Homo sapiens: one gene and its partners. The protein of the gene in region 1 interacts with the protein of each later gene in a pairwise test. Each region holds a gene or a part of one and is shown on either strand. Other genes may lie near its edges.

Region 1 (7,671 bases):
CTCCAGCTTCCTCGGACAACCTGGCCCGGCTCTGGTGTGTGGAGACTGGAGAGATCAAGAGAGAGTATGGCGGCCACCAGAAGGCTGTTGTCTGCCTGGCCTTCAATGACAGTGTGCTGGGCTAGCCTGTGACCCCTCGGGACTGCCTGGTGCAGGTGGTGGCAGCTGGAGGGACCCATGCAGCACCCAGGTCAGAGCAGACCCTCCCCTGCCGGCCTGCGCCAGCTGGACCTGATGGCCCCCTGTGGCGCCTTGACCTGCTGGGCCAGGCTGCCCTGGGACTCTCAGCCCCCAGTTGCTTATCCAGATGTGACAGAGCTCGACCCAAGCCAGGCTGCACACTCCTGGACTGGGCTAGCCTGCACTGCCTGGGAAAGTCGGCCGAGGGCCCAAAGCTGCTGAGGGGTCTGAGGCTGGTGCCCACCCCCAAGCTAGTGTGTTCTCTGCCCCTCCCTGCCCGCGTTTCAGGGCCTCGGTCCATAGAGAACACCACCACCATGGCCAGGTGGAAGGGTTTATTAGTCCCTGCCAGCAGCTGTCCTCCCTGGTGCAGGTGGCCTGGCCAGCCCACTGGATTGGGGACGGGCCAGGCTGGGCCAGGTCGGGGGCTCAGTCTGGGAGGTAATAAAAGCAGACCGACACGCAGATGTTGCTCGGGAAGCAGATGTCGATGCAGAGATAAATCAGCCGCTGTCTCCGGGGCCCTGTGGCGAGGGTGCCGTGAATCTCCAAGGGCTCCGCCCCCAGCTCCTCAAACCATCCCGAGGGCCTGGCCTTCCCCCACAGCGGTCCTGACTCACCCTCTGCTCGCCGGGCCCAGTAGATGGGGGTCCTCATGCACAGGCGCTGCACCAAAGCCCCCGCCTGGGCGGGGTCCACTTCGAGGCTCCCCTGCACTGCCAGCAGCTCCTGGGTGTGGTGGGTGTCCTGGCTGGGGACCCAAGCCTCTTGGACCTGTTGAGAAGGCTCTGGTGGGCGGTGGGACAGGGCTGCTCCCTGCTCCTGGCTTGGCAGGGCCGGGTACCCTCCAACCCCCAGTGATGTCCCCACCCTCAGCTCTTGTCAGCAGCCTGGGCTTAGGGCGGAGAGAGCTTCCTGTTCCCTGAAACCACAGCTCCAGCCTGTCCCGTACTGGGCTGCACACAGGACCCTTTGTCTAGCCCCTGGCCCGGGCCTGCGCCCAGCAGGACGGCTCACCTTGGAGGTATCCACCAGCAGCCGCAGGGTCTCCCGATCACTGTCCTCCATCAGGCGGAGGAAGCAGACCTGGTGCTCCTCAGGGCGGTAACAGATGCAGCCCTGGGGAGGCAGGGGGGTGAGGCGGGGCCCCCCAGACCGACACCTGCCAGGGTGACCCCTCCCTGCCCACTCACGCTCTGCCCGTCGAACAGCACCGCCCAGCTGTGGTTGCTCTGAGGTGGGGTCACTGTGATGGTCGCCGCGTTCCGGGCCACGTCCACCAGGATGGTTTGGTTGGGCCGGGGCATGTGGGGGCTCGGGAGGGTCATTCGCAGCGTCTGCAGCCTTGGCTGGCAGTGGGAGTTGGAGTTCAGCCGGGCAGCTGTGCAACCCCAGCACAGCCTCCAGCTCTGGGCTGCAGGACTCCTGACACCCCTGAGTGGGCCCTTCCACCCCTTGGTCCTCTGGCTGTCTGCTCCTAGGTGGTGTCACTGCCTGCTCCGCACCCTTGCTCTGCTGGAGGCTGGGATATGCCAGCTTCCCTTCTCCCTTTCCACTGTCCATGTCCCTGGTGCTGAGGAGGGGCTCACCTTGGGAGGGCCCTGAGCAGAGCCAAGAAGCCCTCCAGCCACAACCCCCACAGCGGCCAGCACCAGCAGCAGCAGCAGCAGGAGCAGGCTCACGGCTCTCCAGCCCCCGCAGGAGGGCTTGGTCTTCACCTGGGCGTGCATCAGGGTCAGAAGGGTCATGAGGGTTAGACATCAGGGAGCAAGTGGGCTGGGGAAGGGAGGGGCTGGGTGGCCTGGGGCACCCCCTGGGTCCTTGCTGCAGGAGTAACGGGAGGCACTCACCCCTGTAGGCCCAGGTTTGGGGCGCTCAGCACAGCAGCTTGCTGGTTCCATCCTGCAGCCCCTGCTCACAATGTGCCGATTGTCTGCGTCCCTTGTCTGCAGCCTTGGCCAGGGGAAACTCAGAACAGAACCCCTCCCCTCCTGACCCTGCGCCTCCCCCTCAGCTCTGGATCTGATATCCAGGTCAGAGCCAGGACAGCCCCTCCTCCCACCTGGGGGATGCCTGTCACCAGGCCCGGCTCCAGACACCTGGCCTGTGCAGACTGGAGCTCAGGGTCTGGGAGGCGTAGGGCTCGGCCGCGTGGAAATCCAGTCCGGCTGACCGACTGGAGGGCAGCCCAGGCCCGGCCAGGGTGACTCGCTAAGTGTGGTTGGGGTGGATTTCGTTTTCCTAAAGTGGCCTGAGTCTGTCAGGTTATCCTTGACTCCCAGAGTTGGGCACAGGGCCTGACACGCCACAAGCTGTCAATACGTGCCTGTTCAGTGAATGACAGGTGTGGGACTGTGCACCCCCAGCCACTTCCCAGCCCCCGCACACCCAAGACCGGGGGTTCCTGAAGCCTGGACCACAGACAGGCAGCCTGCTGGAGCCTGTGCCCCTGGGACAGTCAGGCCAGCCTCGGGGGCCCGCCTAGCCCAACTTTTTTTTTTTTGAGACGGAGTCTCGCTGTGTCCCCCAGGCTGGAGTGCAGTGGCGTGATCTCAGCTCACTGCAACCTCTGCCTCCCGGGTTCACACAATTCTCATGCCTCAGCCTCCCTAGTAGCTGGGATTACAGATACATGCCACCAAGTCCCGCTAATTTTTGTATTTTTAGTAGAGATGGGTTTTCACCATTTTGGCCAGGCTGGTCTTGAACTCCTGATCTCAAGTAATCCACCTGCCTCAGCCTTCCAAAGCGTTGGGATTACGGGTGTGAGCCACTGCGCCCGGGCCAGCATTACTTCTGAGCTCTGCTCCCTGCCCTGGGCGCTCTGACACGGCAGCCCACCAGCTTCACTCCAGGGCCCTTTGCTTCCCTGGCTTCCCTTTGTGCCTGGCTTTCCCTCATTCTTCAAAACATCTTCCTCTGAACCAGGCTGGGAGTGGGCAGTTGGCATTCCAGCTCTGGAGTTGGAACCCCAGTTACCCATCTACTTTGAGTCCTCCCACCCGTGGTGAGACGGCATCACCCGGGCCAATGCAAGGTGAGAGCAAGGACACCTGAGCCAGTGTGGGTTTGAGAGTTTAATCTGTGCTCTGGCGCCCACAGTGCTGCAGCCCCTCATGGGCCAGAGACAGGATGCACGGGGACTCCCAGCCCCTACCCGGCAAGAGAGGCATCACTGAGGCTGCATCTGCCATGCGCTCCTGGTGTGACTGCACCCTGTCAGGCCAGACCCGGCTTGAGCCAACTTAGCCAAGCCAGCGTCAGTGTCACCAGCCTCATGGGTGGAGCCACCCTCATGCTGCTCTGCAGCACCCTCTGAACCCGATATCCCAGGCCTGGGAGGTGCTGAAGGCTCAGGACGCCTCTTATTGCTCTGAAGTCTTTGTGACCAAGTGGAGTGCTGTGACTGTGGGGCCAAGAGAGAAGCTGCCAGGTACAGGGAAAGGCGCTGGTAGGGAGCCAGCCAGAAGGTGCAGCATCCCGGGATGGCCCTGCTGAGTCTGCTGTCAGGCCTGTGAAAGGTCAGCAGAGCCAAGGAGCAGGCAGGAGAGGCTGGAGCCCCGCCCAGAACCTTGGCGAGCTGGTGGCCCTGCCAAGTCCTGCTGGCCACTGAAGAGGGAATCCAGGGCAAGGCAGGTGACCTCCTGGGCCACCAGTCTCTAACCCCTACCCCAGCCTAGGGAAGGGGAGGACAGGAAGAGACTGGATGCTTTGTAAAGGACTTCCTGTTCTTGGGGACATAACTCTCGTCCCCTCCCAGAGCCCTGGATGACTGACAGGCATTCCTTGGCCAACACATGCTTGAGCCGCGCTGCTGGCTGCAGGGCACCTGGATGACAGGCATTCCTTGGCCAACACATGCTTCAGCCGCGCTGCCGGCTGCAGGGCACAGAGGCTCCTTCAGTGGAATTTTGCCTACGACACAGAGCACAGCTATTAATACACTTAAAATTCAAATCCATTGCCTGACACAGTTGTTCAAAGTTAAAAACTGGTAGCAGCACTGCTCTGAGCTCCCTGCACTGCAGCCCGGAGTTCAGTGAAGGCGTCCACGCCATGGTAGCTGCTCCGTCCAAATCACCTGGGTATAAATGCACACTTGAGACAGCAGAGCTTTAGCTGGGCTGCGTTTACAGAACTGGGCAGCAGCCCTGGGTATCTGAAACGGAACAGACACTCAGTTGTGACATCAGAGTGGTTTTCAAGGAAGTAAGGGAGGTGGGAGAGTGGTGAGGGCAGCACTTTGCACCCAAGGGCAGGGAGATGCCACCTGGGAGCAGCCGCCTCCTCCACTCCCACCCTGCTGGGAGGCACAGGGACACAGAAGGCTCCGCTGGACTTTCAGTCATACTGATGGGGCTCTGGTCCATGCAAGCCTCTCCCAACAGTCAGAATAATCAGTCCCTCTGCCCCCTGAGGGGCTGGATCCCTGAATGAGTTTTTCAATAAAATACAGGACACACACCCCTAGACCCGCCTCAGTCCCATCGGCAGGCCCTGGTTACCTGAATCCCGGACAGGTGCAGAGCCTGCCCCTGCCAACCCCACCCAAGGCCCAGAACCCAGCCCACAACGCCTTCCAAGCCTAAAAGTGCATCTTCGATTACAAGCATCTGTAAACAAAATCGTCCCCCAAACGTGTACTTACAAGGTTAACAATGAATGCCTTTGCTTAACTCCAATTACACTCTTTGAAGCCACTTAGCCGAGCAGATGCTTAAGCCCCACCTATTAATTTGGGTAACTGGTTTTCAATTTCTTTTTTTTTATTCTGCAGATTAAAGACACTCAATCTTTAACCTTGAAGGGCAGGCAAAAGGTCGGCTATGCTGTCAACATAGAAGTCAGGGACCATTTTCTTCTTAGACACGCAGTCACTTTCCTGATTATTCTTCACATCCCCTAGAGTGGAGACTCCGGTGAGGGTCAGGATGGTCTTCAGGCCACAGGTGGCGCCTAGGAGGATGTCTGTGTCCAGGCGGTCTCCCACCATGACGGTGCGCTCGGGGTTGATGCCGTATTCCTGGGACACGCAGTCGAAAATGAAGCGGCTGGGCTTCCCGATGATGTCGGCCTGGCGCTGGGCGGCCATCTCCACGGCTCGGACCAGACACCCGGTACCTGCGGGGCACAGGGGACCGGGTCAAAGGGCAGGGAGGGGGCCCGCCGCCCGCCCCCCAGCCTCCCGCCCCAGGGCGCACGGACCCGCGATGAAGCGGCCGTTCTCAAGCGGAAGCCGGTTGTCCATGTTGGTGCCCACGAGCAGGCAGCCGGGCTGCTGCAGGTAGCGCAGGGCCTTGGTGAGCTTCATGTAGCTGAAGTGCGGGTCAAAGCCCACCACCACCGCGCGCACGTCGGGCTCCAGCGGCGCGTGCAGCCAGTCGCCGGGACCCTCGCCCTGCAGTGGCTCGGGCCCCACGCCCACGCTGGCGACGCCCACGGCCTCCAGCTCCGCGGCCAGGGCTGGGCTGCCCAGCACGTAGGCCTTGGGCGCGGGGGCGCCGGCCAGGCGCTGGCGCAGGTAGAGCGCGGTGCAGTAGGCCGTGCCGAAGACCTCCAGGCTGGCGCCGGGCCCCGCGGGGCCGCCGAAGCCCAGGCGCCGCAGCTTCTCGGCGTAGGCAGCGCGGGTCTTGCTGCTGTTGTTGGTGATGAAGCCCAGGCGCTTGCCGCGGGCTCGCAGCGCCCGCAGGGCCTCGGGCGCGCCAGGCACGGCGGTCTCCCCGCGCCACAGCACGCCGTCGCAGTCGAACAGCAGCGTGTCCACGTCGGCCAGCAGCGCCTGTGCCCGCTCGGCGCTCAGCCGCACGCAGCGGGCGTCGTCGCCACCGGCCTCCGCCGCCGCCATCGCCGCCCGCCGGCCGCCGCCGCCCGCCGGCCGCTCCTCGCAGCCGCCCGCCGCGGCGCCCTCCCCGCCCCCGGGGCGCTCATTGGCCCAGCGCCTCGCGCCCGCCGCCCATTGGCCTGCACCTTCGCCAATCCGCCCCCGCCTCCCGCGGGCTGCGGGAGCTCAGCGCCAATCGGTGAGGCCCGGCGCGGGGAGAGGGGCGATCATTGGCTACCGGCCTTGGGACGCCCCGGTGATTGGCTGGCAGGGCTCCAACCGGCATTCGGAGTGAAGCGCTCGCTGCGGAAATGCGCCAGAGGGGAGAGCAGCGCAGGCGCAAGGCCGCTGTTCCCGGGCTGCCGCGGGCCGCTCACCCATTGGAAGCGAGTGGTCAGCCTAGGTGACGAGGCCCTTCACGGAGTGACCCGGGCCAGGCCGGCTGTCCATTGGCCGGTCTCTCCCGCGGGCATGGGCGGGGCTCTCGCAGGAGCGCCGCGGGAGGGGGCCGGGGCACCTTCGTCGGCCGTGCCCGTGCCTCTGTGCCGTGGACGCGCTCGGGACACGGGGCCACCACGTGGGTCGCTTACCGGCCAGTCCCGCGAGCCAGCCCGGGGCTCCTTCCCCGGCAGGCGTGAGTACGCGCCTCAGTCCTTTGCAAAAACGCGTTCCCGGTTCCTTGGAGGTAACACGAACCAGCCATTACCAGGCTGGGGGATTAGGGTCTAAGGACACTGTCTAGAACCTGGTACTCAGTGATTGCTCGCCGTCATCGTCATCAATTATTAGGTATTTAATTGAGGCAAAACATTACAGTAAAGGGCATGAAAACCGTGCAGCTCGATGGAAGTTTTACATTTATTATTATTTTATTTACTTATTTATTTACTTTTTGAGACGGAGTCTCGCTCTGTCGCCCAGGCTGGAGTGCGGTGGCGCCATCTCGGCTCACTGCAAGCTCCGCCTCCCGGGTTCACGCCATTCTCCTGCCTCAGCCTCCCGAGTAGCTGGGACTACAGGCGCATGGCACCACGCCCGGCTAATTTTTTGTATTTTTAGTAGAGACGGGGTTTCTCCGTGTTAGCCAGGATGGTCTCGATCTCCTGACCTCGTGATCCGCCCGCCTCGGCCTCCCAAAGTGCTTGGATTACAGGCGTGAGCCACCGCGCCCGGCCTTTTATTTTTTTAATTATTATTTTTTGAGACGGAGTCTCTTGCTCTGTTGCCCAGGCTGGAGTGCAGTGGCGCGATCTCGGCTCACTGCAAGCTCCGCCTCCCGGGTTCACGCCATTCTTCTGCCTCAGCCTCCTGAGTAGCTGGGACTACAGGCGCCGGCCACCACGCCTGGCTAATTTTTTTGTATTTTTTAGTAGAGACGGGGTTTCACCGTGTTAGCCAGGATGGTCTTGATCTCTTGATCTCGTGATCCGCCCACCTTGGTCTCCCAAAGTGCTGGGATTACAGGCGTGAGCCATGGCGCCCGGCCGGAAGTTTTACATTTTTACATGTATATATATATTTTGCGACAGGGTCTTGCTCTGTCCCCCAGGCTGGAGTGGAGTGGCTAGATCACAGCTCACTGTAGCCTTATCACAGCTCACTGTATCCTTGACCTCCTAGGCTCATGTGATGCTCCTACCTAAGCCTCCAAAGTATTTGGGACCAGAGGT
Region 2 (8,243 bases), on another chromosome or scaffold:
TGTCAGATACCTTGCAAGGCGCTAAACAAAACTTTCTGTTCTCAAAGATGGCACAATAAAAAAAAATGAGGATGGAAGGGATGAACGTTTATGACTATGATATGAATATTAAAAATTCCTGTTTATGGCCAGACGTGGTGGCTCACGCCTGTAATCCCAGAGCTTTGGGAGGCCGGGGTGGGTGGATCAAAAGGTCAGGATTATTCAGTTCTCTCCAATCAGGTTCAGACACTCAGGGCTTTCCTGGTTCACCAGCCCTGTGGCAGCCTCTCAAGATACTCCGGCACAGTCACAGGAGACTTGACACTCCCAGGCTGGGTGCCCTCCCCAGTACACCTACAAAACGCTGGGCCTCAGGCCGGGCACTGTGGCTCATGCCTGTAATCCCAGCACTTTGGGAGGCCAAGGTGGACGGATCACCTGAGACCAGGAGTTCAAGACCAGCCTTGCCAACATGGTGAAACCCCATCTCTACTAAAAATACAAAAATTAGCCAGGCATGGTAGCACGTGCCTGTAATCCCAGCTACTCAGGAGGCTGAGGCACAAGAATCGCTTGAACCCAGGAGGCAAAATTTGCAGTGAGCTGAGATAGTGCCACTGCACTCCAGCCTGGCGACAGAGAGAGACTCTATGTCAAAAAAAAAAAAAAAAAAAAAAAGGCTGGGCAAGGTGACTCATGCCTGTAATCCCACCACTTTGGGAGGCCGAGGGAGGCGGATCACTTGAGGTCAGGAGTTTGAGACCAACCTGGCCCATATGGCAAAACCCTGTCTCTACTAAAAATACAAAAATTAGCCGGGCATGGTGTCACACGCCTGTAATCCCAGCTACTAAGGAGGCTAAGACAGGAGAATCACTTGAACCCAGGAGGCGGAGGTTGCAATGAGCTGACATCGCGCCATTGTACTCCAGCATGGGGGACAATAGCAAGACTGCGTCTCAAAGAAAAGAAAAGTCAAAAAGTAGGCCAGGCATGGTGGCTCACGCTTATAATCCCAGCACTTTGGGAGGCCAAGGCGGGCAGATCATTTGAGGCCAGGAGTTTGAGACCAGCCTGGGCAACATGGTGAAATCCTGTCCCTACTAAAAATACAAAAATTAGCTGGGCGTGTTGGCATGCGCCTGTAATCCCAGCTACTCAGGAGGCTGAGGCAGGAGAATCGCTTGAACCCGGAAGGCAGAGGTTGCAGTGAGCCAAGATTGCGCCACTGCACTCTAGCCTGGGGGACAGAGTGAGACTCTGTCTCAAAAAAAAAAAAAAAGAAAAGAAAAGAAAAAAAAAAGTAGCCAGGCCTGCAATCCCAGCTACTGGAGAGACTGAAGTGGGAGGATTGCCTGAGCCCAGGAGTTTGAGACCAACCTAGGCAACATAGGGAGATCCTGTCTCTAAAATAAAGGTATAAAAAAGTGTAAATGTAAAACCTCCATTTGCCTACTGCTGACTGAAAGGGGTACCCCCTTTTTTGCTTAAGAGACAAGGGTCTTGCTTTTTTGCACAGGCTGGAGTGCAGTGGTGCAATTATAGCTCACTACAGCCTTGAACTCCTGGGCTCAAGCGATTCTCCCACCTTGGTCCCCCAAGTAGCTGGGACTTCAGGCATGTGCCACCATGCCCAGCTAATATTTTTTATTTATTTTTGTAGAGACGGGGTGTCCCTATATTGCTCTGCCTGGTCTTAAATTTCCGGACTCAAGCAATCCTCCTGCCTTGGCCTCCCAAAGTGTTGGGATTATTGTTGGGGCCAGGCGCAGTGGCTCACACTTGTAATCCCAGCACTTTGAGAGGCTGATGTGGGCGGAACACCCCGTCTCTACTAAAAATACAAAACTTAGCTGGGCATTAGCTGGACCTGGGAGGCAGAGGTCGCAGTGAGCCGAGATTGCACCACTGCACTCCAGCCTGGGCTACAGAGTAAGAGACGCCATCTCAAAAAAAAAAAAAAGCTTGTTGGGGCCGGGCGCAGTGGCCCATGCCTGTAATCCCAGCACTTTGGGAGGCTGAGGTGGGCGGATCGCCTGAGGTCAGGAGTTCAAGACCAGACTGGCCAACATGGTGAAATGCCATCTCAACTAAAAATACAAAATTTGCTGGGTGTGGTGGCGTGCATGTGTAATCTCAGCCACTCGGGAGGCTGAGGCAGGAGAATCACTTGAACCCAGGAGGCGAAGGTTGCAGTGAGCCGACATCGTGCCACTGCACTCCAGCCTAGGCAAAAAGAGCGAAACTCTGTCTCAAAAAAAAAAAAAAAATGCTTGTTGGGGCCCAAGTTAATTGATTTCACAACTGCTGCCTTGGCATGAGATTGAGATGCGTCTCTATATCTCTGTCTCTGTCTCTGTGTCTCTGTCTCTGTCTATCTTTGTATCTCACACACAAATGTCCAGGTCTGAGCTCTGGGTCAGAACTGTGGTCCATTCTTTGCAAACTGAGGGTCCCCACTCTCCTGAGCCATTGGCCACTTGCCCACACCACTACCCAAGACCAGTCCCACCTCCGGACACGTCGACTCACTGTACACGGTGATGTTAGAGGAGCCTGTTATCTGAGAGCCATTGCAGTACACTGAGCAGAGGATCCGACTGTTGCCAGTCACGTTGCTGAGATTGAAGGCTGCCCAGCCCATGCCACTGGCCACCAGCTCCTTTGATAGGGACGTCTCCAAGGCGATTTTCTCAGAGCTGGGACAATCAGTACTGCAGTTCACAAACAGGGACCCTCCAGCAGAGAGCACAGGGTTCTGGGGCTCCACCCGCAAAAGGAACTCCTGCCCCTGGACACCTTCAGGAACATGAAGAAGTCCTGGTGTTTGTTTCCTTGTCCCCCAACCCACGCATCAACAGGCCCCACCATTTAACACCTCTCTCCTTGTGCCGAGACAGAAGGGTTCCTGCCTTCATGGTCCAGTGGGAAAGGTAGAATCCATCAGAGACCGGGGAGAACTCAGAAGGAGGCCAGAAGAGGCTCTGATCCAGCATAGGAGGAGGTGAGTCAGGGAAGGCTTCCTGGAAGCGGGGACCATTGCAGCCCGAAACTGAAGGCTAAGTAGGAGTTAGCAAGTGAAAGGGACAGGTGATCCTGGCAGAGGGAAGCACATACGCAAAGGGCAAATTTCAGGAGTTCAGATGGAGCAGGAAGCATGAGGGGTGTGTGTGTGTGTGTTAGGGGAGAGGGATGGCGTACAAGCCTATGCTGGGGCCTGACCACCTGAAGGCTGAACTAAGGAACCAGAACTTTCTCCCGAGGATACAGAGTCAGCGGCCAGGTCGCAGTGTGGCAGGATGTGAACAGCGTTGCGTTCTATTCCTCTACCCTCTACTGATCCCCAAAACGCAGCCCTCTCCAGCCCTCCCCGGCTTGACTGGTCTCACCTGGGGTCAGCAGACAGCAGACCAGCAGAGTCCAGCAGGCCCTGGGCCACAACACGGATGGTACCATGGTGGCCATTCTGACAGAGGAAGGTGCCTTCCTGAGGTGCCCGAAGGGCAGGCAGGGGAAAAGGCGGGGCCTCCCACTGCGACGGAAGCACAGCGGTTAAGATTGCAGAAGTCTGGGGACTGCACCTTGCCCAGGCCTGTGGGTGGAAGGGGATGCTGTGGCCCTTGGGGGCCAGGGTGGGGGACCCAGACGGGGCTCTGCAAAGTGGCCAGCACTGCTGAGTCTCCCCCAGGGAATGGGCTGGTCCCAGTTGCACTGCTGGCCCCCATTTGAATTCACAGGAAATGCTAACTAAACTGGTTTCTTTTGTTCTCAGCACTGGGAAGCCTGGGTGGGGGGGATGAGGCATCTCCTTCTGGCTGAACTTAGGTGGGTAGGGGAATATTCTGTCCCCAGAGAGGAAGTTAATGGGGAAAACTGTAGGCACCATTGTGTAGATGTTAAGGTGGGATTTCGAGGAAACATTAAAAAACAAAAACAAAAACAGAAACAGAAGCAGAGTCTTGCTATGTTGCCCCGACTGGTCTTGAACTCCTGGCCTTAAGATGGCCTCCTCTCATCTTGACCTCCCAAAGTGTTGCGATTACAGGCGTGAGCCACCACGCCTGGCCACCTTTGAAGATCTTGAGGATACCTCCCTATCTTTGAAGATCTTGGGGATCCCCCATCCCCTGCACAAAGAGCTAAGGTAGGTGATTTGGGGACAGCTGAGTCCCTGAGCCACTGTCTATCCAGGATTCTACTTGGTTTTTGTTTGTTTGTTTTGAGACAGAGTCTCACTCTGTCACCCAGGTTGGAGTGCAGTGGCGGGATCTCGGCTCACTGCAGCCTCTGCCTCCCGGGTTCAAACGATTTTCCTGCCTCAGCCTCCCGAGTAGCTGGGATTACAGGCATGTGCCACCACGCCCGGCTAATTTTTGTACTTTTTGGTAGAGACGGGGTTTCACCATGTTGGCCAAGCTGGTCTCAAACTTCTGACCTCAAGTGAGCTGCCCGCCTTGGCCTCCCAAAGTGTTGGGATTACAGGCGTGAGCCACTGCGCCCGGCCTTCCAGGATTCTACTTGTAACTGGCCTTTACCCCATCCTGTTGTCCCCTTGCCCACCCTTCCAGGCAGCTGGTCACTGCATTCCAAGGGAAGGCGCCAAGGGGACCAGGTGGGACCCCCACCTTTGACCTGCCTCTGACCTCAGGCCTCTGACCTGCCTTCTGGGCTTCACATCTGAGCTCCAGAGAGAGAGGCCTTGTTGAGAGCCTTGATGGGGCCCTGCACTCACCCACTTTCCCCAGACCTTGAGGTCACAGCACCTCCTCTCTCATCTAGAGCACCCCCACCTTCCTAAGCAGGTCCCTCCTCTATTCCTCTACCTTCCGAACAATCCATTTCCCACCTGGTGTTGAGAGAGCAGCTAAAACCCAAGTCTAGTGTATTTGTAAACAGCAGGGACCAGTAGCATGGGCCTGGTGCCTGTAGTCCCAGCTCCTTGGAAGGCTGAGGTGAGAGGATCGCTTGAGCCTGGGAGGTCAAAGCTGCAGTGAGTCGAGATTGTGCCCCTGCACTCCAGCCTGGGAGACACAGTGAGACCCTGTTTCCACAAAAAAAAAAAAAAAAAAAAAAGATGTCGGACTTACTGGCTCACGTCTGTAATCCTAGCAGCACTTTGGGAGGCTGAGGTAGGTGGATGACGAGGTCAGGAAATCGAGACCATCCTGGCTAACACAGTGAAACCCCATCTCCACCAAAAATATAAAAAATTAGCTGGGCATTGTGGCGGGCACCTGTAGTCCCAGTTACTCAGGAGGCTGAGGCAGGAGAATCACTTGAACCCAAGAGGCGGAGGTTGCAGTGAGTGGAGATTGTGCCGCTGCACTCCAGCCTGGGTGACAGAGCAAGACTCTGTCTCAGAAAAACAAACAAACAAACAAACATATATATATAATTTATAATACTTACGTAATAGTGAGACCCTGTCTCTAAAAATAAAAAAGAAAGAAATATTTGTAAATAAGTCATATTTCTTTTTTGTTTTTTGAAACAGAGTCTCACCGTGTCGCCTAGGCTGGAGTGCAGGGGCACAATCTCAGCTAACTGCAATCTCAGCCTCCTGGGTTCAAGTGATCCTCCCACCTCAGCCTCCCTAGGAGCTGAGACCACAGGTACACACCACTGTGCCTGGCTAATTTTCTGTAGAGACGGCTTTCACCATATTGCCCAGGTTGGTCTTGAACTCCTAAGCTTAAGGGATCTGCCTGCCTCGACCTCCCAAAGTGCTGGGATTATAGGCGTGCCCTGCTACACCCGCCAGTAATATTTCTGATAAAGAAGTATTTCTGGGCCAGGTGTGGTAGCTCACGCCTGTAATCCTAGCACTTTGGGAGGCTGAGGCGGGCAGATCACGAGGTAAGGAGATCGAGACCATCCTGGTTAACACGGTGAAACCCCATCTCTACTAAAAATACAAAAAAAAATTAGCCCCGTCTCTACTAAAAATACAAAAAAAAATGGTGGCAGGTGCCTGTAGTCCCAGCTACTCGGGAGGCTGAGGCAGGAGAATGGCGTGAACCCAGAAGGCGGAGCTTGCAGTGAGCCGAGATCGCGCCACTGCACTCCATCCAGGCTGGGCAACAGAGTGAGACTCCATCTCAAAAAAAAAAAAAAAGAGTATTTCTGGGCCAGGCGTGGTGGCTCACACCTGTAATCTTAACACTTTGGGAGGCCTAGACAGGCGGATCCCTTGAGGTCGGGAGTTCCAGACCAGCCTGGGCAGCATGCCAAAACCCTGTCTCTACTAAAAATACAAAAAATCGGCCAGGTGCAGTGGCTCACGCCTGTAATCCCAGCACTTTGGGAGGCCGAGGCGGGCGGATCACGAGGTCAGGAGATCGAGACCATCCTGGCTAACACGGTGAAACCCCGTCTCTACTAAAAAAAATACAAAAATTAGCTGGGCATGGTGGCGGGCGCCTGTAGTACCAGCTACTTGGGAGGCTGAGGCAGGAGAATAGTGTGAACCCGGGAGGCAGAGCTTGCAGTGAGCTGAGATTGCGCCACTGCACTCCAGCCTGGGCGACAGAGCGAGACTCCATCTCGAAAAAAAAAAAAAAAGTACAAAAAAATCAGCCAAGCTTGATGGCACACACCTGTAGTCCCAGCTACTCAGGAGGCTGCAGCGGGAGGATTGCTTGAGCCCGGGAAGTGGAGGTTGCAGTTAGCTGAGATTGTGCCCCTGCACTCCAGCCTGGGCGACAGAGAAAGGTCACCTACACATGTTTAAGGGGCCTCTGCACATATCTCAAGCCATTGACAAGAAAGCAAGTACAGTCTGGATTGCAAACAATGTATAATTTAAGCTCCAGCTGATTTTTTTTTTTTTTTTGAGACAGGGTCTCAGTCTGTCACCCAGGCTGGAGTGCAGTGGCATAGTCTGGGCTCACTGCAACCTCTGCCTCCCAGGTTCAAGTGATTCTCCCGCCTCAACTTCCCAAGTAGCTGGGATTACAGGCATGCACCACCACACCCAGCTAATTTTTTGCATTTTTAGTAGAGACGGGGTTTCACCATGTTGACCAGGCTAGTCTCAAACTCCTGACCTCAGGTGATCCGCCCGCCTCGGCCTCCCAAAGTGCTAGGATTACAGGCGTGAGCCACCGCGCCTGGCCTCCAGCTGATTTTTGACAGCCACATTGTTGCTATAGGATCCTTTTTACGTGTGATGGTGATGGTCTCTGGTTCTCCTCATTCCCACAAAGGTTGTTGAACCACAGCACCAGTAACACTGAGAATGCTAAGGGCTCTAGCCCAGGCTTTCTCCCAGGTTCTCTGGTGTGCGCCCTCCTGGTGACAATGAAATTGAAGCTAATTGCTTTCACTGGTTGAGTCTCTGATCTTGAGTGGCTGTGTCCACATTTCATTTTTTTTTTTTCTGGTAGGAATAACTACTTTTCTGCATCCATGCTCCATAGACTCTGTCCTTTTCAGACATCCTGGGATAAAAAGATTTGGCTTTTTTTTTTTTCTTCTTCTTCCTGAGACAGGGTCTGGCTCTGTCTCCCAGGCTGGAATGCAGTGACATAATCATGGCTCACTGCAACCTTGACCTCCCAGGCTCAGGTGATCCTCCCACCTCAGCCTCCCTAGTAGCTGGGACTATAGGTGTGTGCCACTACACTCGGCTAATTTTTGTATTTTTTCTACAGAGGAGCTTTTGACATATTGCCCAGGCTGTTCTCGAACCCCTGGGCTCAAGTGATCCTCCCAACTCAACCTCCCAAAGTGCTGGGATTATTACAGGGGTGAGCCACTGTGCTGGGCTTTCACTCTTAGGCTATTAAACAATGAAGGTAGTTATTGATCCTATCTCTTTCATATTCTTCTTCTTTTTTTTTTTTTGAGAATGAGTCTTGCTCTGTCTCCCAGGCTGGGCTCACTGCAATCTCCACCTCCCAGGTTCAAGCGATTCTCCTGCCTCAGCCTCCTGAGTAGCTGGGATCACAGGCGTGCGCCACCACACCCAGCTAATTTTTGTATTTTTATTAGAGACGGGGGTTTCACCATGTTGGTCAGGCTGGCATATTCTTCTTTCTAAGAACTGAGAGTGAGGGGGCTGTATTGAATCTCTTCATGCACCAGGAACTGAGTTCTGAAGATGATCTTATTATTATCAGTATTTTTTGAGATGGGTTCTCACTCTGTTGCCCAGGCTGGAGTGAGGTGGTTCAGTCTTGGCTCACTGCAACCTCTGCCTTCCAGGTCCAAGCGATTCTCCTGCCTCAGCCTCCCAAGTAGCTGGGATTACAGGCGTCTGC
Region 3 (5,481 bases), on another chromosome or scaffold:
CACCACACCCAGCTAGTTTTTGTATTTTTAGTACAGATGGGGTTTCAGCACGTTGGCTAGGATGGTCTCAATCTCTTGACCTCCTGATCCACCGGCCTCAGTCTCCCAAAGTGCTGGGATTACAGACATCAGCCACCACACCCGGCCAGCACTGATATTTTATGAGGGAAATATACAATGATCACCATGGATTTATTTCAGAAACAAAGGCTGGTTTAACATTTGAAAAAATAAAAGTAGTTTATAAAATGTTATATAAATACAACATATATCATTCCAACTGCTACAAATTAATAAAAATGTTACAATTGATAAAATCTATTAGAAAATAGGAATATTATAAAACTGCTTCGATATGAGAAAGATAGGATGAAAACAACACCAAGCTTTGTAAATATGAATAATATGTTTAAGTATTTTTTGCCAAAATCAGAAAACGATACATATGATACACACAGAACTTTGATTGTACCTTCTATTCAACTATGGGTATAAAACCCTAGCCAGTGAAAATAAATGAAAATAAAACTACGTTATAGCATATAGATTAAAAAAATAAAAGTGTGATCATGTGCAGATAAAATTGCTCGTTATATAGAACACCCAGAAATAAATCAATAGTTGACATAATAGATTTACATATATAAAATCAGTGGAATAAGTAGATATAAAATCAAAATGCAGACATCAGTTGTATTTCTATTTATAACAACAAAAATTACTAAAGGGAATTTTAGAATCAGGATGCCATTTACAAAAGCATAAATGTAAAATACCTACATTTCTGTATGACTTCAATCCCCCAAAATACAAAATACAATAGAGAGAAATTAAAGATAACACAGTACATTGAAGGAAACACTTTATATTGATTAGAAAAGTCAATATTATAAAGAAGCTAATCTTTAAAAATTACTTTAGAGAATAAATGCAGTCACAAATAATCCCAGGAGAGGCTTTTTTTTTTTTTCTGGATAGCTTTATTGAAGTGTCGTGTACAAAGCATACATTTCATGCACTTAAAATGATTAAAAATCAATGATGTTTAGTATATTCGCAGAGTTACAACCATCACCACTACTGAAATTTAGAAAGTTTTCATCACGACACAAAGTAACGTTCTATCAGTTAGAGGTCATCTCCTATTTCAACCTCCCTCAGACATTGGCAACCACTATTCTACTTTCTGTCTCCATGGGTTTGACTGTTCTTGGTACTTCCTATAAGCTGACTCACATAACATGCAACTTTTAGAAAGGCTGAAAACCACAAATACCATGTTGAGCAAAATGAGCCCGACACAAATGCTAGGATGTCTGTACTTTAGTAATTGTGTGTATCCTGTTTCAATAATTGATTTAGAATTTTCTTATTAGAGCAAATAACATAATTCATTTTAAGATTTATGCAATCATAATATATTTCTATTTTAAGAAATATACAATTTATCTGATGCACTGCAAATGCAAACGCTTTACCTCTAAAGCTTATGCTTACAATGATATATTATTGAAGATCCACACTGGGCTGATTTAAGTCGATTTACTTGTAGCACTGCACAGTTAAGTTCAGCATTATCTGAGTCTTTTATCCTGTAATGGAGAAAAATCCATATTCTGTTACATTTTAAGCAAATGATTCATGAGACGAAAGCATTTTCCATGTACTGTAAGAAAATAATTTCATGGAAAAGGGTAATTAAATTTTTCATAATATTAGTAAGAGTCATTATTCTGAACACTCAACAGAGTAGTCCCCCTTCATCCACGAGGGATATGTTTCAAGATTCCAGTGGATGCCTGAAACGGCAGATAGTGCAGAACCTATAGAGAGATTATGTTTTCTCTACACATTCATAACTGTGATAAAATTTAATTTATAAATTAGGCACAATAAGAGATTGACAACAATAACTACTAATAACAAAATTATAGCAATATGCCAACAGCACTACTCTTGTGCTTTGAGGATATTCTTAAGAAAAAAAGTAAGTGTGGCTTTTTAATAAAAACAAGCACTGCAATTCCCTGATAGTCCAGCTCGAGCTTGTCCAACTCGCTGCCCACGGGCCGCATGTGACCCAGGACAGCTTCAAATGCGGCCCAATACATATACGTAAACTTTCTTAAAACATTCTGTGATTTTTTTTTTCTTTTTTTTGCTCGTCAGCTATCGTTAGTGTTAGTGTATTTTATGTGTGGCCCAAGACTCTTCTTCTTCCAATGTGGCCCACAGAAGCCAAAGATTGGACACCTGATAATCAAGAAGGTTACTAGCTGACCAATGAGCGGTTGAAATATATGGACTACTATGGTCTATTGTAAAATATTTATGTCAGCATTTCACTAACTTTCCACATCTTTCTTCATCTCTATGATTCCACATAGATTTATTCATATTATTCTTCTGAATTTATCCTTTATATATATATTGTTATATAGCGCCATACAAAACAACTTACTCATGTTTGAAAGCCAAACCATTCATTGTCACCCATGGATGATGACTGCTGTTACGAAACACACCAATCCATGAGGATGGTGAAATGATGGACAGAAATTTCTAAAAGAAAAGAAAGAATTTTCACTTAAATAATAATTATGAAAACATTACAAAAACAATATATTAAATTTGAAAACCACTATTTGCAGTGCCAAAAACTTTCATAAATGTTTATAATTTTGATATAAATGAACCCGTCAATGTTTATACTTAGTACTTTTATTCTTCTCATGTTAATAAAGAAGTTTTAATTCTTGCATTATAATAGTTACCCCAATTGACTGAATAAACACAGTAAGGATTTAAATAAGTCTCCTGATACTGTGCATTCATTCCTCCAGATACTGTGACTAAATCAAACTATTTTTGTGCTATATTTCTCAGAGTTGGAGATTTAGAAGAGAAATTAGAGGTTGTGATTCAGAAATAAATGACATGGAAGCTACATATTGGGTTTTCTGGGTACCACACCATTCTTTAACTAGATAAGCCCTCACTTTTTTATCTGATTTGGTTTTGGTGGAATAACAGTGATCCTGACCAGGTGGTGTAGACTCGTCTCTCTCTGCTACTCCCTACTAAAAACAACTATAAACTCTGGGATTAATGAAAGACAAAAGCAATGGAGAACTCTGAAAGGTGGAAAGAGAAAGATGAAATTGTCTGGGACCCTAGCATCAGGGATCAACCAAGTGTCCGAGCGAGCATGTTAAGTCCTCCACACGACAGAAGAAGGTGACCTAGGCCTGCTGTTTCCCTACACCCAACCTGGCAATAGGAGGAGGCCCAGCAAAGCTCACTCCTGTTCTGTATTGAAGGGGAGTCCCCTCCGCAACAACAGGCAAGGCTGGTACCACTGGCAAGGATGATCTACCAGGAGACTTGCTACCAATACAGCCAGAGGAAGTACTTCCTTCTCATACCAAGAGACACCAGAGTGGATGTGGGTGAGGAGGATCAGCAAAGGAACCCAATGACTACCAGTGCACCACCCAGGGTCCTCTTTGTCCCTGAGGGCATGAGACTCACTTCCCCATCCAGAGACACAGGATTGAATGGATTCTTAGTGTTCTTTGTACATACTACAGCAGTGAACAGTAATAAACGACAGATAACCGCAATAATATGGAGGAATTGCATAAATATCAGATAGGAGTGAAAAACACAGACATGAAATTCACAGTGTATGATTCCCTTTATATAAATTCAAAAGCAGGTAAACGTTATTTATAACATTAAAAGTCAAGACAGTGTTTTGGAGAGGAGTCAGGATAAGTGATGAGGGCATACACAGGGGTGGAACTACTAGAGCTGGAAACTTTTATTTCATGATCTGACTTGTATCACAGGAGTTCATTCACTTTGTGATCAATCTGCATGACCAGATCACATCATGCCCGATAAAATTAGATAGCAAAATGTATTGTGGATTGAAAGCATTTCTAGAAGCATGGTTTTCCATGAAAAGCAAAAACTGAAAATAATCAAAAGTACATTAGCAGTATATGAATTTTAAAACATTATTAAGTCAATCAATTAAATACTACATAAACTTGAAAACATATAAGCTAAATGTATATACCCACACATATGGATGATTTCTACAAATATATTATCGACCGAAAGAAGCTTTTCATAAAGTGTTTAAAACATTTACATCTTACCATTTCTTCTTCATTATCTATAGAAAGCAGACTGGAGTTCTTCGAAGTACAGGCCAGCAAACTCTCTTCCCAAGTTCTTCTTTCCTTACCAATGTAGTAACAACTGTTGGAATATGTAATCCACTCCTCAGGACAATGGCCACAATGACGTGCTAAATAAAGATATGAATTACTATCTAGACCAATATGAATTTTTAAAAATGAAAATTAGTTCACATATTTGCAAACATATAAACCTATACGTATGCAACATATCTATACATCTTCATGGGCTGGTAAATATATAGTGTCAAAATACCCAGTCACTTATACACACATGCGCAATAAAGGGTCAGCCTTTCATCTCCTAATTGTGTTCCCATATAAAGCAAACCAGCAAACAAAAATCCACTCTATACATGTCTTGAAAAATCAATGAACTAATCTGATTTTTAAGGAACAATAAATAACTTGTATCTTATCATATTATAGCAGTAAGAATTTGAACACAACAGATAAAAAGAAAGCATAGTGATTTTACTTATAGTTGATGACAAGTGAATGCCTTACTCTAATTTTATTTATGAACACTTATTGCCAAATTTTATAATTTTTCACCCAAAATTTTATTTTTGTACAGCCTAAGATCAAGAAAAAATAAACTGTACAATATTAAAACTTTAAAAATTATTATATACCTTTCTGAGTTCTTGTATTCAGGGAAGAATTGTTGTGCCTCTGTATTAATGTAGCTAGAAAAATTAAAGTAATCTTTGTAAAAAAATTAGCATCTAAATCAATCATAATAATTTTAAGTTTTTGTTTGAATTTTTTTGTATTATTTAGAGTTAGAATAATATGGAATAAAATTGATTTTAAGAAAAATTTGATAAAGTAATGGTGGTTTTTTGGAAAAGTATTTCATAGATCTAAAGAACCAAATTTCACCATCTCATATAGTTCTTATAATTCTTGATTTAACTACTTTCAAAAATTAATTTCTATTTCTCAGTAAGGTTTTTCAGACTCCTAGAACATATTTTTGAGTTATGAAATCCAAATATATACATACGATTGCATCAGAAGCGAATACTTTCAACAATTATTCTTTCATTTATTCTTTGACAAATTCAGAATAATCATTCCACATTTAGTCCAAATATATACATTACAATGAGAACTCTATTCCCTGAAAATATGAAATGTTTAGAGGCACATTCAATCATTAACGTGAAAATTCCCCTTGTAATCTTCGAAAATAGACTTACAGGGAATAACAACTATCGTTACCACAGAGGCCATTAAGATAAGACAGATAATTCCCAGGATCCCAACA

Evidence for each region. Proteins that work in one complex are often made in the same cells at the same time.
Region 2: the proteins of BRICD5 (region 1) and ICAM3 interact in binary tests that used the Homo sapiens proteins (3 or more experiments, as listed by UniProt).
Region 3: the proteins of BRICD5 (region 1) and KLRC1 interact in binary tests that used the Homo sapiens proteins (3 or more experiments, as listed by UniProt).

The regions. Positions count from the first base shown.
Region 1 is NC_000016.10:2,208,753-2,216,423, forward strand, and holds BRICD5 (BRICHOS domain-containing protein 5), read right to left. Parts: upstream 2,112-7,671; 5' UTR 2,082-2,111; coding exon 2,031-2,081; exon of another isoform or gene 1,942-2,030; coding exon of another isoform or gene 1,899-1,941; coding exon 1,770-1,898; intron 1,530-1,769; coding exon 1,374-1,529; coding exon of another isoform or gene 1,300-1,373; coding exon 1,198-1,299; intron 955-1,197; coding exon 801-954; coding exon of another isoform or gene 705-800; coding exon 610-704; 3' UTR 501-609; downstream 1-500. Other genes in the region: MLST8 (target of rapamycin complex subunit LST8), read left to right, coding at 7-125; PGP (glycerol-3-phosphate phosphatase), read right to left, coding at 4,976-5,301, 5,386-6,025.
Region 2 is NC_000019.10:10,336,168-10,344,410, forward strand, and holds the start of ICAM3 (intercellular adhesion molecule 3 isoform 1 precursor), read right to left. Parts: upstream 3,458-8,243; 5' UTR 3,448-3,457; coding exon 3,372-3,447; intron 3,079-3,371; exon of another isoform or gene 2,782-3,078; coding exon 2,515-2,781; intron 1-2,514. UniProt on the Homo sapiens protein: ICAM proteins are ligands for the leukocyte adhesion protein LFA-1 (integrin alpha-L/beta-2). ICAM3 is also a ligand for integrin alpha-D/beta-2. In association with integrin alpha-L/beta-2, contributes to apoptotic neutrophil phagocytosis by macrophages.
Region 3 is NC_000012.12:10,445,071-10,450,551, forward strand, and holds the end of KLRC1 (NKG2-A/NKG2-B type II integral membrane protein), read right to left. Parts: coding exon 5,414-5,481; intron 4,898-5,413; coding exon 4,844-4,897; intron 4,319-4,843; coding exon 4,167-4,318; intron 2,563-4,166; coding exon 2,462-2,562; intron 1,593-2,461; coding exon 1,481-1,592; 3' UTR 958-1,480; downstream 1-957. UniProt on the Homo sapiens protein: Immune inhibitory receptor involved in self-nonself discrimination.